Regions from separate parts of the Homo sapiens genome. Here region 1 is reported to be linked to region 2. Evidence: microRNA targets listed by miRTarBase, many of them from high-throughput screens and not tested one by one. Region 2 holds a microRNA gene; the other region holds the end of a gene's coding sequence.
Evidence for each region. Region 2 holds the annotated microRNA hsa-miR-876-3p (UGGUGGUUUACAAAGUAAUUCA, at 1,741-1,762, opposite strand). A microRNA usually pairs through its seed, bases 2 to 8, with sites in the 3' UTR of a target mRNA and lowers its output. Matches are read on the target gene's strand: a 7mer-m8 pairs with bases 2 to 8, a 7mer-A1 pairs with bases 2 to 7 and ends in A, and an 8mer does both.

Region 1 (3,183 bases), not on the chromosome of region 2:
TAGCCTCAAGTGATCCTCCCATCTCAGCCTCCCAAAGTGACAGGATTACAGGTGTGAGCCACCATGCCTGGCTGCTCTGTAAGTGTCTGAATTTCATTTTGTATTTATCAGTCTGTTTAGATTTTCTTTCCCTTCTTGGGTCAGTTAGGCCATTGGTTTCTTTTTAAAGGTTTTCAAATTTATTTGCATCTAATTCTTCAAATTACTCTCAAAATTATTCCAGTATATATTCTTTTGTTCCTATTTTCTTCTGTATTCTTTATTAAAATAGCTAATGATTTATCTAGCAGGACTTATATTCTTTCCATAACTTTCCTGCACCCCAATTAATCTCCAATTTTATATTTCTTCTGGCCTTCCTTATAGTTTCCACAGGTTTATTTTATTCATTTTTTAAAACTTTTATTTAATTGTTTATTTTATTATCATTCTTTCTTATTCAGCAATCTAAGTGCTTAGGGATATAGAATTTCCTCTAAGCAGCATATGCTAGGCTTTAACAATGTTAGGGAGGCCTCCCCTTTCTGGGGAAGACCACACTTACATTAACACAGGACTGTGGGATGCCAAGAGGTAGAGAAGAGCTTATGAATATCCAGATTACATCTTCACTGATCCTGCACAAAGGTGGGGTTCCTCGGTTACCCACTGGGTCCTATTACCCAAGTCTGGGTCAGCATACCGAGACTACGGGTATATAGAACAAGTGCAACTGGCGATAATCCTTCTGTTGGGGAGAAAAATCTTTTTTTTCTATTCATCTTAGGTTCTCCATCTGTGGCCCTATCAAGTAGACTAACAAAAGACAGATTGACAAGACAGAAACAAAGCATGTGCATTGTACAAACACAGGGGAGTACTGAGATGAATACTCAAAAGAGGATTTAGAACTTGGGCTTATATAGCATTTTAAGAAAAGAATACATTTTTTAAGTGACAAGGAAGACGAAAAGGACTTTGAGTTTCTAGTGCAGTAAATTGTGGGAAGGCAACTTTTTCTTTCCCTTTTTTTTTTTTTTTTTTTAAAAAAAAAGACTTCTCTGGTGCTATGTCCAGGCTGATAAGAGTCTAAAGTCTCTGGTGACTAACTTTTGTTCTTCCCCGAGTAAGAAGACACCTTCACAATTTCATATCCTGCTTTTAGGCAAATAGGGAGAGGGCAGAGGTGTTTGTTTGTTTTTAATCTATTTTTTTTCTCAATTGTCTTCAACTCAAAATACTTCTTATGCCAAAGATGGCATATTCTGCTACCCTTCACTTACTACTTACAACCCAGCCTCTATCATCATAATTAGAACTTCTGACCCTGGGGAACATGGGCAATAGTTTGAACTCTTTTATATCTCCCTTAGGCAGAGATGGAGGCCCAGCCATGCCTCTGACATCTAGACACAACTGTTGCTTCATTTCTCCTATTCTCAGAGGTGATGTTGTAGGACTTCAACAAATATCAGTAAACATTAATTTTTTTTTTCCTTGAGGCACAGCATGATCTTGGCTTACTGCAGCTGCTGCAGGCTCAAGCAATTCTCCTGCCTTGGCCTCACGAGTAGCTGGGTTACAGGCCCCTACCACCATGCCCGGCTAATTTTTGTATTTTTAGTAGAGACAGGGTTTCACCATGTTGGCCAGGCTGGTGTTGAACTCCTGACCTCAAGTGATCCACCTGCCTCAGCCTCACATAGTTCTGGGATTACAGGCGTGAGCCACCATGCCTGGCCATCAATTTTTATGTCAACTCTAAATTATAACATTTAGCAATTTTGTGACTTTTTATGGTCATCATTAATGTTGTTTATGTTTTAGTTGTAGTCCTGTCATTACTCACTCGGGTATGGTAATTTGGTCTTTTTCAAAATGAAGTTAAGGTCTATTTGCTCTTCTCTGAATCATAATAAGAACTGCCAACAGCCATTTCAGCAATAACTATTTACTGAGATTTTAAAATATTTCAAGGTAATTGGTCCTAGCAGACTGGAAAATACCAAATTCTTTTCCAGAACTGAATCCCCCATCAAAGTTCAATTTTACTCATAATTCCCTTTTCATTTGAAGCATCTCATTGTAAGCCAGTCTTAACCCTTCTCTCACACTTTGCTTGGCTGTTTCTCAGGTAGAACTCAGTAAGTCTGGTAGCCTCCAGGACTGCCGCTTAGATTATTAAACAACATGTCAGTGGTTGGAAGAGTCAATGTTATTTTGATTTTTCTGTTTTGTTTTGTTTTAAATGCAGTTGGCGGATAATTGCAGCTTTCTTTCATTCCCTACATGAGTTCAAATGGCAGCAAACAAACTAGGAGAACGCAGACCTTCTGACTTGTGGGTACCCCTACTCATCACCTGAAGACCCTTGGAAATCAAAGCCCTGACCCATTAAAGACGGATGGAGACAGCAACATACGATCATCACTATTATCTTGCTTTGCCCCAGTCCAGGTTAACCATCTGTGGTATTTTTAGTTGCTAAGTCCATATATTCAACATAAATCAATTATATATCCACTAAAATCTCAGCACTAGTCTAACTACTAAGGAAATGACAGCGAAGAAAACAGACCAAACGTCTGCCCTTATGGGATTTATATTATTTTCTCTGTGCTGGTTAAACCAAGGAGCTTCTGCTCTTTTCCTTAGTCACCTGGGGGAGGCAGAAACAAAGGAGAATATTGATAAACCTGGAAATAGGGCCGGAGAGTATCAGAGAAGGAAGCCTTCGGGAAAGTAAAGATGTGGCAGCCAGTATTCCCGTTATAAAAGGATACAACTCCGGCCTCATAGTCCAGAAAAATTCCCACAAGCAGGGGCTGCTCATGCAGATGAAGGGAAGTTGGGGGAGAAGTAAGTGCTACATAGCCTTTCTTTTTGCACAGCCTGAGGGTCCAGAATCCAGACTGAGGCTCTTGCTTCATGCCAGTGCCCCTCTGCACATTTTCCATACAAACTCCTAAATCCCATCCGGTTCCTTCGCCAACATCCACTTCAAAGTAACGTCTTCCTGAGGTGAAGCCTTCACAACCCAAGACACAGGGGAAGGCAGTAAATCTCCTGGAAGATGTGTCCTGATTCTCCTGGGTGTATCCACGAGTCACTTGTCTCCGATCCTCAGAGAGAATTAGTTCGTGATGAGCTGTATCTGGATCCAGAGTCACACTAACTGCAAAACAAAACAAAACAAACAAAAAT
Region 2 (3,183 bases):
GTACATGATTATGAGATATGCTTATTAGTCCATTAGCACATCCCATTATATCTCCCGTAAACTAAAAATTATCTTAAGAAAAAATATTGTGACTTCCTTCTAAATTCATATATCAGCAGTTCTACATATTATCATTAAAAACATAAGCTTCGGCTCAAAGGAAATTTTACAGGTGCCCCCTTTCATAAAACAGAAAAATCAAAGAGCTCTAGGACAAATTAATTTCAGAAACCTGTCTTCTCAGACTCTTTTCCCACCTGTCCTCACACATCAGCAAAGTAGCACCCAACAAAAGCACAGGAAATCCCAGAGCTCTGTGGATTTTGCTTATGAACATACAGTCCTATGAAAAATAAGGTTACATATGTATCAGACAAGGAATGGTAATAATAAATACTGAAGAATTAAAGGCTAGGAAATAAGAATAACATGTTTGTATCATAGTTCAAATTAAATTAGAGTAGCAAGATATTTCTTAGGTAAAGCATTTCCAATCATATTTATACACATATATTTTAAGGTTAAAAGTATACATATTGATTCATTCTTTTGGTCATTTATATGTTGAAAAATAATATACTGATTTTCTTTTATCTAACAGAAGGGCTTAAAAATTAGTATGCTAATTTATTTAAAGTCACCCAACCTTATAGAGCATATGCATAATCCACTTCTAAGGAATGAAACATAACAGGACAAAATAAAGTCATAATGAATACAATAGATATATTCAATGATGATGCAAAAGTAATTTCAGAAGCCTGTACCACTGTCACTTAGGTGTCCAGATGTGTCACTTAAGAAATTAAAGGTCAGAAGTTTTCATAGTTCTGACAGTCTTATAGTCATACCATTGAACTTAAATAAGACCTACGCTCTAGCCTTGGAAATAAATAAAAAACGGTAAAACCAAAATGACTATTTGAAAGCTTAATCAGTTATTAAAATAGTTAATCATCAATTGTTTGATTTATGGTCAGGGATAATCCATTCTTGGTAATCCTGATGACAGAAATGACCACAAAGTTCCATTTATTTTAATAAGCAATTACTAGTCAACAATTAGGCTTTTGTGACCTTGTAAAGGTTACACAATCTTTTCTGTCATAGAATAGGACTATAGATACTGTTTCCAGAAGAGTAAATGAAAATGAATGCCCAGTGAATACCTAATTTTAATATATGCCATCAAAATGTACAATTTGGTATGTTAAGGTGATTTTTTTTGCCCACACCAATGTTTTTCTTGTTAAAATAAAATGTTGCTTTTTACAAAAGTACTGCATAACAATGATGTCTTCAAGCCCCTGATCATTTACCAAACTATTTAATTAATATATTAATTGGGCATAATAATCCAAATAAAATATGATATTTAAACTTCAAAATGGTATGCTTAGGATTTAAGGGGCTGATTCAATTAATGTTTCTGATGTATCATGTTTTTTTAACCAAGAAATATTACAAATTACTTTTCAAAAAAAGAACAGTAGAGACAGAGACAGCAACTATGTAAAACATGTATATTTAGGTAAAGTAACCATAATTTCTGGTGTGTTTGACACAGGTTTGATCACTGTTAACACTAAGCACCAAATAGAAGGATTCTAGAGTATATTTACCAGGGATCTCTTGACTTTGTGTGTCTTGTAATACAAAGTGGCTTGTTCTCAATGGCTCAGTAAAGGAATCTTAGGCTTCATGGTGTAGATCAACTGCAGAAGCACCTGTGAAGCACTATGAATTACTTTGTAAACCACCACCACATTAGCTTAGATATGGTGATTCACAAAGAAATCCACAGCACTTCACAGTTTGTGTAAAGCCTGGTACCTATGAACCAACAAAAACAGTACCCTTTGGCCACCAAAAGTTGAGGAAGTATTTCCATCTAGTTCACAATCAATTGAAGAATATGCTCAGTTTTGCACCACCCTCTTTTAGCTGAAACACACAAGAAACACTGAACATTTATTTTAAGTAAATAAAACTTAAAAATAAATGCATGCTTTCTATATTATATACCAGTAAATTTCATTTAAAAGAATTCCTAATACAATAACTAGCATGACATTATGCAGGATGAAAAAACAGGGTTCTGCTCATCAAAATAAAAGGGCATGGTTATTAATATAGATGTCAGGAGTAGGGAGTAGAATAAATAATAAAACTATATGTAATTCTCACATCCATATCACAGTATATAAGTGTTGCTGGGATAATTTGTTCTAAAGATATCCTCAGTTACTTAGCTTCCCACTTTATACTCATATAATCTCATATCCTATGACACAAGCTTACCAATGTTACAAATCTGCCCTTGTACCCCTGAACTTAAAATAAAAGTTCAAAGGCAATCATTAAATGAGTTTAACCTGAGTGTTTTTTCCTCTGATATTTGTCCAAGTAAGTATTTTTTCATATGACTGCTGAAGTCCAAGAATGTTTATAAAACTAAATTCTATATTATACATATTAGGTTCAACTCTGAAAGAAAACCACACCAATAAAAAATGAAAAACAAACAATAAAGTTACTCTCCTTTGCAAAATAACCAGAATCCCACCTTTTAACTTTTATCTAAAGAGCAAAAAGAAAGGTTTCATTTATAATTAATGAAAAGAATCTATAAATCTTCCCAGCCTAGTAAGCATAATATCAATCAAGTAATTCATGCTTTTGAAAATTTCAACATTTTTCAAAGTAACCATCAAATGTCAACATTAATTAAAAGTTTGCTTTATAGAAGCTCATGAACATAAGAGTCCTAGGCAGTTCACCACTGTCAGTGTAGGTCACTGCTCAGGAATACCCTACTCACCTCCACCAACCACACATATAACAACCAAGCCAAACTTGCTAAGTATCTGAATAATTAAAAATATTTAAATAAAAAATTTGTAGAAAATATGTATGTATGAAAAAAAAATATTTGTTTTGCGCTTATCATGTGCCAGGCATAGTCTTGGTTAGATGCTGGGGATATAAAAACTCCAGGTTTCAAGAAATACAAAGGAGAAAACAAGAATTTGAAAAAAGCAGTAATAGGTGTTATGAAAAGTTTCCATATAGGGCTAATGGAGACATGGAGAGGCCACTTAATTCAGTGCTAAGAGCGTTGATTACAGATGTCTTCTCTAAGGGAATACCATATATAAGAGAACTGAAAGAGTAGCAGGAATT

Region 1: miRTarBase lists TRIM38 as a target of hsa-miR-876-3p. The part of its 3' UTR that is shown has no 7-base or 8-base seed match.

What each region holds. Positions count from the first base shown.
Region 1 is chr6:25,983,135-25,986,317 of GRCh38, reverse strand. TRIM38 (tripartite motif containing 38) reads right to left here. Exons shown (of 8, transcript NM_006355.5): 8 at 1-3,154. The coding sequence ends at 2,631. Among named protein-coding and RNA genes, the nearest start is that of LINC02980, 7.9 kb to the left of the region's middle.
Region 2 is chr9:28,861,896-28,865,078 of GRCh38, forward strand. MIR876 (microRNA 876) reads right to left here and starts at 1,811; the gene lies at 1,731-1,811. All of the region lies in intron 2 of LINGO2 (leucine rich repeat and Ig domain containing 2), which reads right to left.